2 linked regions of the Homo sapiens genome follow. The protein of the gene in region 1 purifies or fractionates together with the protein of each later gene. This does not show direct contact. Each region holds a gene or a part of one and is shown in the gene's direction. Other genes may lie near its edges. The genes, in order: AGPAT2 and ATP1A3.

Region 1 (3,900 bases):
ATCTTGCCCCTGAGCAATGGCTGCCCTGGCTGAGGCCCAGCCCCTCCCCACGGGGTTCCAGGCGGCACCCAAGAGACCCCCACCGTCTACACCGTAGTTCTGAGCGTGTGAGGGACAGTGATGGGACTAGAACCTCTGAGGCAGCCTTCGTTCCCACCGGGCTTGGGGCTGAGACCACGGACCCCTTCCAGGCAGGGGGTGTCCCCTGAGCCCTTCCCTGTGTGCGCAGTTACGGTGGAGCTGCAGGGGACGTTTCCTCACCAGGGGCCGATGCCCTGGTACATCCATTCGACAGAGGAAAGCAAAGCCCAGAGCGGCTCCGTGTCCTACAGCTGGGTTCAGCTACAGGATCAGAAAACCCTCAAGACAGCAGCTTAATCCACAGAGAAGTTTACTTTTTCATACAGCAAAGGAGACCAGATGGGCAGCCTAGGGAAACAGCAGTTAGTTTCCGGCTCCTTTGACCTCTATTCCCACCATTTTCAGGGTCCCAGACAGAAAAGGGGTGCTCTTCCTCTTAAGGATGCTCCCCGAATTGAACCCCACGCTCTGCTGGTATCTGGAGGCCGGGACCTAGTGGTTGTGGCAGCTCCTGGCTGCAGGGCAGGCTCCTGTCCCCATGGAGCACGTGCCCACACCACACGCCCAGTGTGGGGAGAACGCACAGGGGACTTGGGATGTCGGGCAAGGTTTGACCCAGATTTGCCGGCCAGTGCATGGTCCCGGGTCCTCTGACAGATGTCCGGTGATGACAGATGCCATCGGGGGCCCTGTGTCACCACAGCACTGGGGTCTTAGTCCCAAGGGAGACCGTGACCTTGGTCCTCCAGAGCGCTCCAGGTGTCTCTGTGCAGGCCCAGAAATTGGAGCTGTCCTGACTGAGGGATGGGAGGGCTTCTCTGGCCCCACCTCCTTCCCGCCCGCCACACCTGCACTCCTACACATCCGCTTTGAGGAGTCACGGGGACCCCCCACATCCGGGTGTTTGTGTGGGCTGGACCCCGCACCCCTATGGACCCATCCCGCCTTGTGCTGCAGCTTGGATGACACTTGTCGGAAAACACCAGATTCCTCACTGGGGTCCCTGTCCCCGGTGGCCCCAGCGAGCCCCAGCAGAGGGGGAGGGGGCTGCCCTGAATGAGCTCACGCAGCTGAAGATGGGCAAGTCCTGGCTCAGAGAGCTGCTGGGTCTCCTGGGAGTGTCCCAGCCCAGGACCAAGGCAAGGGTCAGCGAGTGGCCTTCCACGAGGACAGCCTGGCCAGTGGCCTGGGCCCTGACCTAGAACCGCCTCCCAGCTGCCTGAGCCAGGTGCTGGTGGGATTGGGGGCTTAGGCACATTGAGGGGCCTTTTGCTTCGATTTACTTTGGACTTTTTTTTTTATTTTTTGAGACAAGGTCTCGCTCTGTTGCCCAGGTTGGTCTTAAACCCCTGAGCTCAAGTGATCCGTCTGCCTCAGCCTCCCAAAGTGCTGGGGTCACAGGCATGAGCCACCGTGCCCGGCCCCACCCATTTTGGATTCTTCCCCCCCTCCCCCCCACCCCCTAGTCATCCCCATCACAGCCACTGTTGGTGGAGGTCCTGCCCTGGCCCGATGGTGCCCCGGGTGTCTCCGCCTCATAGAATGTAAGCCTGCACACCCTTCCACAAGAGCCTGGGAGGTCAAATGCTTTGCCCGAGGCCATAGCTGGGAAGAAGGGAAATGGGATCCAAATCCCCGTCAGGCCCAGAGCCTGAGTGTGGGAGCAGCCCAGGTGCCTGGGGGCTGAGCTCAGGCGGTCTGAGGAGGCTGGGTTCCTGCAGACCCCAGAGGGGTCTCTTACGGGGCTTCGCTCGAGGCCAGTGGACTCCAGTCTGAGGGCTCCTGAAAAAGACTGAGGCAGCACCTGGGCTTTCCCTCAGCAGGAGCCCACTGCTCCGATGCCACCAGAAGGGCCCAGTCTGGGCTCAGCCTCACTTAGTTTTGGGTGCTGGGCTGCTCCCTGGGCCTCCTGCCTTGCTGGGCAAAGCTGGCACAAGTCACCCGCCTGGCAGTGGCCAGCAGGGCTCCCTGAGCTCCAGGCTTCCGGCAACCTTGGCTTTGCCCCTGCTCCCCGGGGAGGCAAGGAGTCCAGGACCTGGATTTGGGGTCCGTGTGACTGTGTCCTGGTCTGGCACAGCGACACCTGCCCCAGGCTTTGAGGAAAGGACAGGGCAGCCCCTCGTCCGCCTGTGGTTGGTGGGAGGGGAGTTTGAGTGAGGCAGGGTGTTTGGCACAGGACAGGGACTGGGCTGGGCAAGCTGGTGGGGGAAGCCTGGGGACAGTGGCTGCTCTGAGCTTCCTGCTGGGGGAGGCCGGAGCAAGCTCCCAGCCCTGCTGAGGGGTTGAGGGGACTGCGGAGCCCGGGGGAGGGAGGGAGCCTCAGGATGAGCTCCTAGAGTCCTACTGGGGGCCCGCGCCGCCCCAGCACGACTCTGCCAGCTCCGAAGCAGGGTTCCGAGGGGGGCTCAGGCCTGTTCTGGCTTCCCTGCTGTGTGGCCTTGGGGAAGTCACTTAACTTTGCTGAACCTTGAACCTCGCATTCCTCATCTGAAGAGGGGGGTTATGATCGTACCTACCCTGGGGGGTTACTGTCAGAACAAAAGGAGGTGACTCATGTAGAGCCCTTGTCTCGAGGCTTTGCACACAGGAGGTGCAGGGGGCCTCTGTGCTTAGAAGGCGATTTTTCTCTGCTTGGGTTCCCGGGGGTGTCCTCGGCCGCAGGAGCCTCTGCAGGGCTTAGTTCAGTCCCTTCCTCTCTGAGGAAACACTTTTTTTGTGTGTGTGAGATGAAGTCTTGCTCTGTCACCCAGGCTGGAGTACAATGGCACCATCTCGGCTCAACGCAACCTCCTCCTCCCTGGTTCGGGTGATTCTCCCGCCTCAGCCTCCCGAGTAGCTGGGATTACAGGCAGCTGCCACCACGTCTGGCTGATTTTTGTATTGTTAATAGAGACGGGATTTCACCATGGTGGCCAGGCTGGTCTTGAACTCCTGACCTCAGGTGATCTGCCCGCCTTGGCCTCCCAAAGTCCTGGGATTACAGGCGTGAGCCACCCGCCCATCCAGGAACCGCTTGTAAAGTGAGTCTAGACTTTCCCACCAGCTTTCAGAAAGCTCTGAACTATGTACGGGACACCGCGGGGGAAGTGCGGTGGCCTCACGTGGCTGGTGCAGATGGCCCTTTGTCCCCTTGAGGACATCAACTTCAACTTTCTTCCACCCCCAGGGTATACCTTTCTCCCCCAGCCACACTGTGGGCTGCAGAGTTCTAGAGAGCCACAGCCTCCCGCTGGCCTGGGGCAGCCTCCGTCCGTCCATCTGTCTGGCCTGAGGACCAGGGGCCGGTGGTGGGCGGCGGGACACAGCGCCTGCTCAGCACCGCCTGCTGGGCGGGGGTTTGTACCCCGTGTCTTTCACAGCTGAGAGAAGTATCAGTGCACGATCCAACCCCTAAGCAGCTTAGATTAAAAAAAAAAAAAAAAGGAAAAGTTTTGGAGCTAGAGGGTGGTGCTGGCCACACGGCAGTGAATGCGCCGAGTGCCACGGAACCGTGTGCTGAGAAATGGGTACAATTATATTGTTTAGGTGGTGCGTGTTATACCACAATCAAAACAGAGGAGGGCTCGGCGCGCTGGCTCCTTCCTGTCATCCCAGCACTTTGGGAGGCCGAGGCGGGCGGATCATGAGGTCAGGAGTTTGAGACCAGCCTGGCCGACATGGTGAAACCCCGTCTCTACTAAAAATACAAAAATTAGCCGGGTGTGGTGGCGCACACCAGTAGTCCCAACTACTTGCTAGGCTGAGGCAGGAGAATCGCTTGCCGGGAGGTGGAAATGGCAGTGAGCTGAGATCTCGCCACTGCACTCCAGCCTAGGTGAC
Region 2 (3,900 bases), on another chromosome or scaffold:
AAATTGGTCAATGAGAGACTCATCAGCATGGCCTACGGGCAGATTGGTGAGGCACCGGGGACTCCATCTCCTTACCACCCAGTGCCGGGCCTAGAGCAGTGCCTGGCCCACCGTGGGTGCTTGGGACCCTGGCATTGACTCAGGGGAGCAGACGTGGGCAGGACCAACCAGTGAGCTATCTGTGGGGGGGGTCTGCACCCCATCCTTCTCCACCTCCTCCTCTCTGCTGTTGATGTGTGCGGATCCCCAGAGGAGTGGAGCAGCCACCCTTGGGGGCTGTCCCAGCAAGCAGAGACTTCATGGCAGTGGTTCCAGGCCCAGGGAGGTCATTCCTGCGTAGGGAGCTCAAGCTGGGGATCCCCCAAGAATTCATGATGTTTAGGTGGCCTAGGTCAGGTGAGAGAGGGGCTCCAGGTTATCCCTCTGGGAGAGCCCTCTCTCCAAAGCCCCTGTCCCAGGTGGCCCACCCATCTCAGGGCCTCACCACCAAGTGAGACCTCAGGTCACCCTCTGGGAACCAATGTCCAGATAACAGGGCCAGGAGGGCATACTCCCCTCTCCAAGGAGGCCTCCGGGCCCTCTGAGGTGCCCTGGGTTGGCTGCTGGCCCCAATCTGAGCCTCTCCTCGGCTTCCTCTCTCCTCCTTCCAGGAATGATCCAGGCTCTCGGTGGCTTCTTCTCTTACTTTGTGATCCTGGCAGAAAATGGCTTCTTGCCCGGCAACCTGGTGGGCATCCGGCTGAACTGGGATGACCGCACCGTCAATGACCTGGAAGACAGTTACGGGCAGCAGTGGGTGAGTAGGGCAGGGTGCTGTGTCTCTGCCCACCGTAAGATCCCCGGGGTGAGCTGTTCCAGCCATGCATGGCCACTTCCTACGATGGCCCCCTCAGTCTCCCATGGCAGCATCAAGGCCTTTGCTGGGCACCTGGGGCTTCCTGGATGCCCTTGGCCCAGCCCATCTGGAGCCTTGTGTCCCACTGCTGGAGCTCTCTGCCCTGCCAGGCCTTCTTCCCCACCTCTGTCTGTCCCTTCAAAGCCCAGTTGCTGTCTGTCCTCCTTGGGAGGCCCACAGGGTCCTTATCCTCCTCCCTGGCCCCTGGTGGATGGTGAGATCACCATTAACCTTTCTTCTTCCTTGTACGTCTCCTGACTCCTCCCTCGGGACTATGAGCCCGCAGAAGGAAGACACACCTGAGGCCCTGAGGACCCCATGCAGGATGGGGCGGGGCAAAGAGCACCGGAACGTCGGGGTGGCGGCTAGGGCTGCAGTGCCACTAACTGACGTCCCGTGCCCTGGTCACCGCTCCTGCAGACATACGAGCAGAGGAAGGTGGTGGAGTTCACCTGCCACACGGCCTTCTTTGTGAGCATCGTTGTCGTCCAGTGGGCCGATCTGATCATCTGCAAGACCCGGAGGAACTCGGTCTTCCAGCAGGGCATGAAGTGAGGGCCGGGGGCACATGGTGACTGGACAGCCATCTGTCCTGTCCGAGTGTCTGTCTGTCTGTGTACTTCCTCTTGTGTCCTTGCTTTGGTTTTTTGTTGTTTTGTTGAGGCAGGGTCTCACTCTGTCACCCAGACTGGAGTTCAGTGGTGTAATCATAGCTCACTGCAGCCTCGACCTCCTGGGCTCAAGTGACCCACCCACCTCAGCCTCCTGAGTAGCTGAGACTACAGGTGTGCACCATCATATATGGCTAATTTTTATTTATTTATTTAGAGACAGAGTCTTGCTCTGTTGCCCAGGCTGGAGTGCAGTGGCACAATCTTGGCTCACTGCAACCTCCGCCTCCCGGGTTCAAGCGATTCTCATGCCTCAGCCTCCCAAGTAGCTGGGATTACAGGTACGCACCACCAGGCTCGGCTAATTTTTCGTATTTTTAGTAGAGTTTCACCATGTTGCCCAGGCTGGTCTCAAACTCCTGAGCTCAGGCAATCTTCCTGCCTCAGCCTCCCAGAGTGCTAGGATTACAGGTGTGAGCCACCATGCCCAGCCCATTTTGGGTTTTGCCACTGCACTGATTTTCTCTCAAGGGGTCCTGTGTGTCCTAGATTCTCTCTCAGCCTCTGTGTGTGTGGTGGAGGTGCCCCTGGCCTTTTCTTTTTATACCAGTGCCTCTCTGTGTCTGTCCCTGTCTCTGTGTCTGTTTCTGTCCCTGTCTCTGTGTCTGTCCCTGTGTCTGTCTCTCTGTCTGTCCCTGTCTGTCTCTGTGTCTGTCCCTGTCTCTGTGTCTGTCCCTGTCTTTTGTCTCTTTCTGTGTCACCATCGCTCTGCCTCTATCTTTGTCTCTCTCTGTCGGGGCATGTCTCCCCATCTCTGTCTCTCCCTATGTCTCTGCCTCTCTGTCTCTGTGTCTGTGCTGCTGTCTCTGGGTGTCTGCACTGTGCCTCCCCCTGTCTCTGCGGGGTGGCAGGTGCAGGGTGGGTGCTCTCTGGGCCCAGCCCTGCCCTTCTGTGCCTCCAGGAACAAGATCCTGATCTTCGGGCTGTTTGAGGAGACGGCCCTGGCTGCCTTCCTGTCCTACTGCCCCGGCATGGACGTGGCCCTGCGCATGTACCCTCTCAAGTGAGTGCCCCGCTGCCCCCAGCCCTGCCCACACCAGCGCCTGCCATGGAGCCTTCCCTTAGACTCAGCCTGAACCTCAGGCCCCACCTCCCCTGGTGTCCCCACTGCAGTCCCCATTCTGATGCCCCCGAGCCTCCCCCATAGGCTGCTCCCACCACGGATTACTCCGAAGACCCCAGGCCCCAGCCCCGCCCAGGGCACCCTCCACCTGTGAGCACGAAGGATCCTGGGAGACTGCCCCTCTGCGTCCCCTCCAGTCCCCTGAAACTCTGCCTCTCGTTAGGGCCCCGCACTCAAGCCCTCCTGCTCTCCCCTCTGCAGGCCCAGCTGGTGGTTCTGTGCCTTCCCCTACAGTTTCCTCATCTTCGTCTACGACGAAATCCGCAAACTCATCCTGCGCAGGAACCCAGGGGGTGAGGGAGCTCGGCAAGGCAGCCGAGGGGGGCGGGGGGCAGCAGGGTCTCAGGCAGCTGGTCCCAGGCTCCCCTCGCCCTGCTGGATGGCTCTGCCACCTGGTTCCCACTCTTCTCTCTCTTCCCATCTCTCCGGGCACCCACTCTGTCTTCTCACGGGTCTCTGTCTGTGTGGTTTCCTTGTCTCTCTCCCTCTCTGTCCCTCTCTCTGCTGGGCGGCTCGCCTTGCCTGTCTCTCTCCATCTCTTACTCTGTCTCTTTCTTTCCTTCTTTGTCTCTCCAGGTTGGGTGGAGAAGGAAACCTACTACTGACCTCAGCCCCACCACATCGCCCATCTCTTCCCCGTCCCCCAGGCCCAGGACCGCCCCTGTCAGTCCCCCCAATTTTGTATTCTGGGGGGAGGAGCCCTCTCTTCCTGTGGCCCCACCTTGGCCCCCACCCCCTCCACTATCTCCTGCCGCCCCCACTCTGGCTGGCTTCTCTCCCCTGCCCCAAACCTCTCTCCTCTCTCTTTTCTGTGTCAGTTTCTCTCCCTCTCCTCACCCCTCTATCCATTCCTCCCGCCCCAGCCACCTCCCTGGGCTCTTTTTTACTCCCCTTCAGCCCCCCGGCTGATGCCATCTCTGGTTCTGGACAATTATCAAATATATCAGTGGGGAGAGAGAAGCGGTGTGTGTGTTGTGCCTGCTTTCCAGACGGGGACTGCGGCTGGGACAGCATCCCCTCTGTTGGGGCGCGCTGCCAGGCGACTCTCGAAACTGCAGGAACTTAGCCTGGCACTGGCTTGGAAGTCACGGAATCTCAGAGCCATCTAATCACGGAGTTTTCAACTCCACGAAAGTCAGAGCAGCTTGAATTCACCAGGCGATGGCATTGTGGAATCAGAACAGGGGAGAGGGAGGGAAGCAGACGTGGGA

Evidence for each region.
Region 2: the proteins of AGPAT2 (region 1) and ATP1A3 purify together in Homo sapiens (co-immunoprecipitation; 2 studies listed by BioGRID and IntAct, with this or other methods). This does not show direct contact.

What each region holds. Positions count from the first base shown.
Region 1 is NC_000009.12:136,680,706-136,684,605, reverse strand, and holds part of AGPAT2 (1-acyl-sn-glycerol-3-phosphate acyltransferase beta), read left to right. Parts: intron 1-3,900. UniProt on the Homo sapiens protein: Converts 1-acyl-sn-glycerol-3-phosphate (lysophosphatidic acid or LPA) into 1,2-diacyl-sn-glycerol-3-phosphate (phosphatidic acid or PA) by incorporating an acyl moiety at the sn-2 position of the glycerol backbone.
Region 2 is NC_000019.10:41,966,331-41,970,230, reverse strand, and holds the end of ATP1A3 (sodium/potassium-transporting ATPase subunit alpha-3), read left to right. Parts: coding exon 1-46; intron 47-650; coding exon 651-796; intron 797-1,315; coding exon 1,316-1,446; intron 1,447-2,467; coding exon 2,468-2,569; intron 2,570-2,890; coding exon 2,891-2,982; intron 2,983-3,265; coding exon 3,266-3,294; 3' UTR 3,295-3,649; downstream 3,650-3,900. UniProt on the Homo sapiens protein: This is the catalytic component of the active enzyme, which catalyzes the hydrolysis of ATP coupled with the exchange of sodium and potassium ions across the plasma membrane.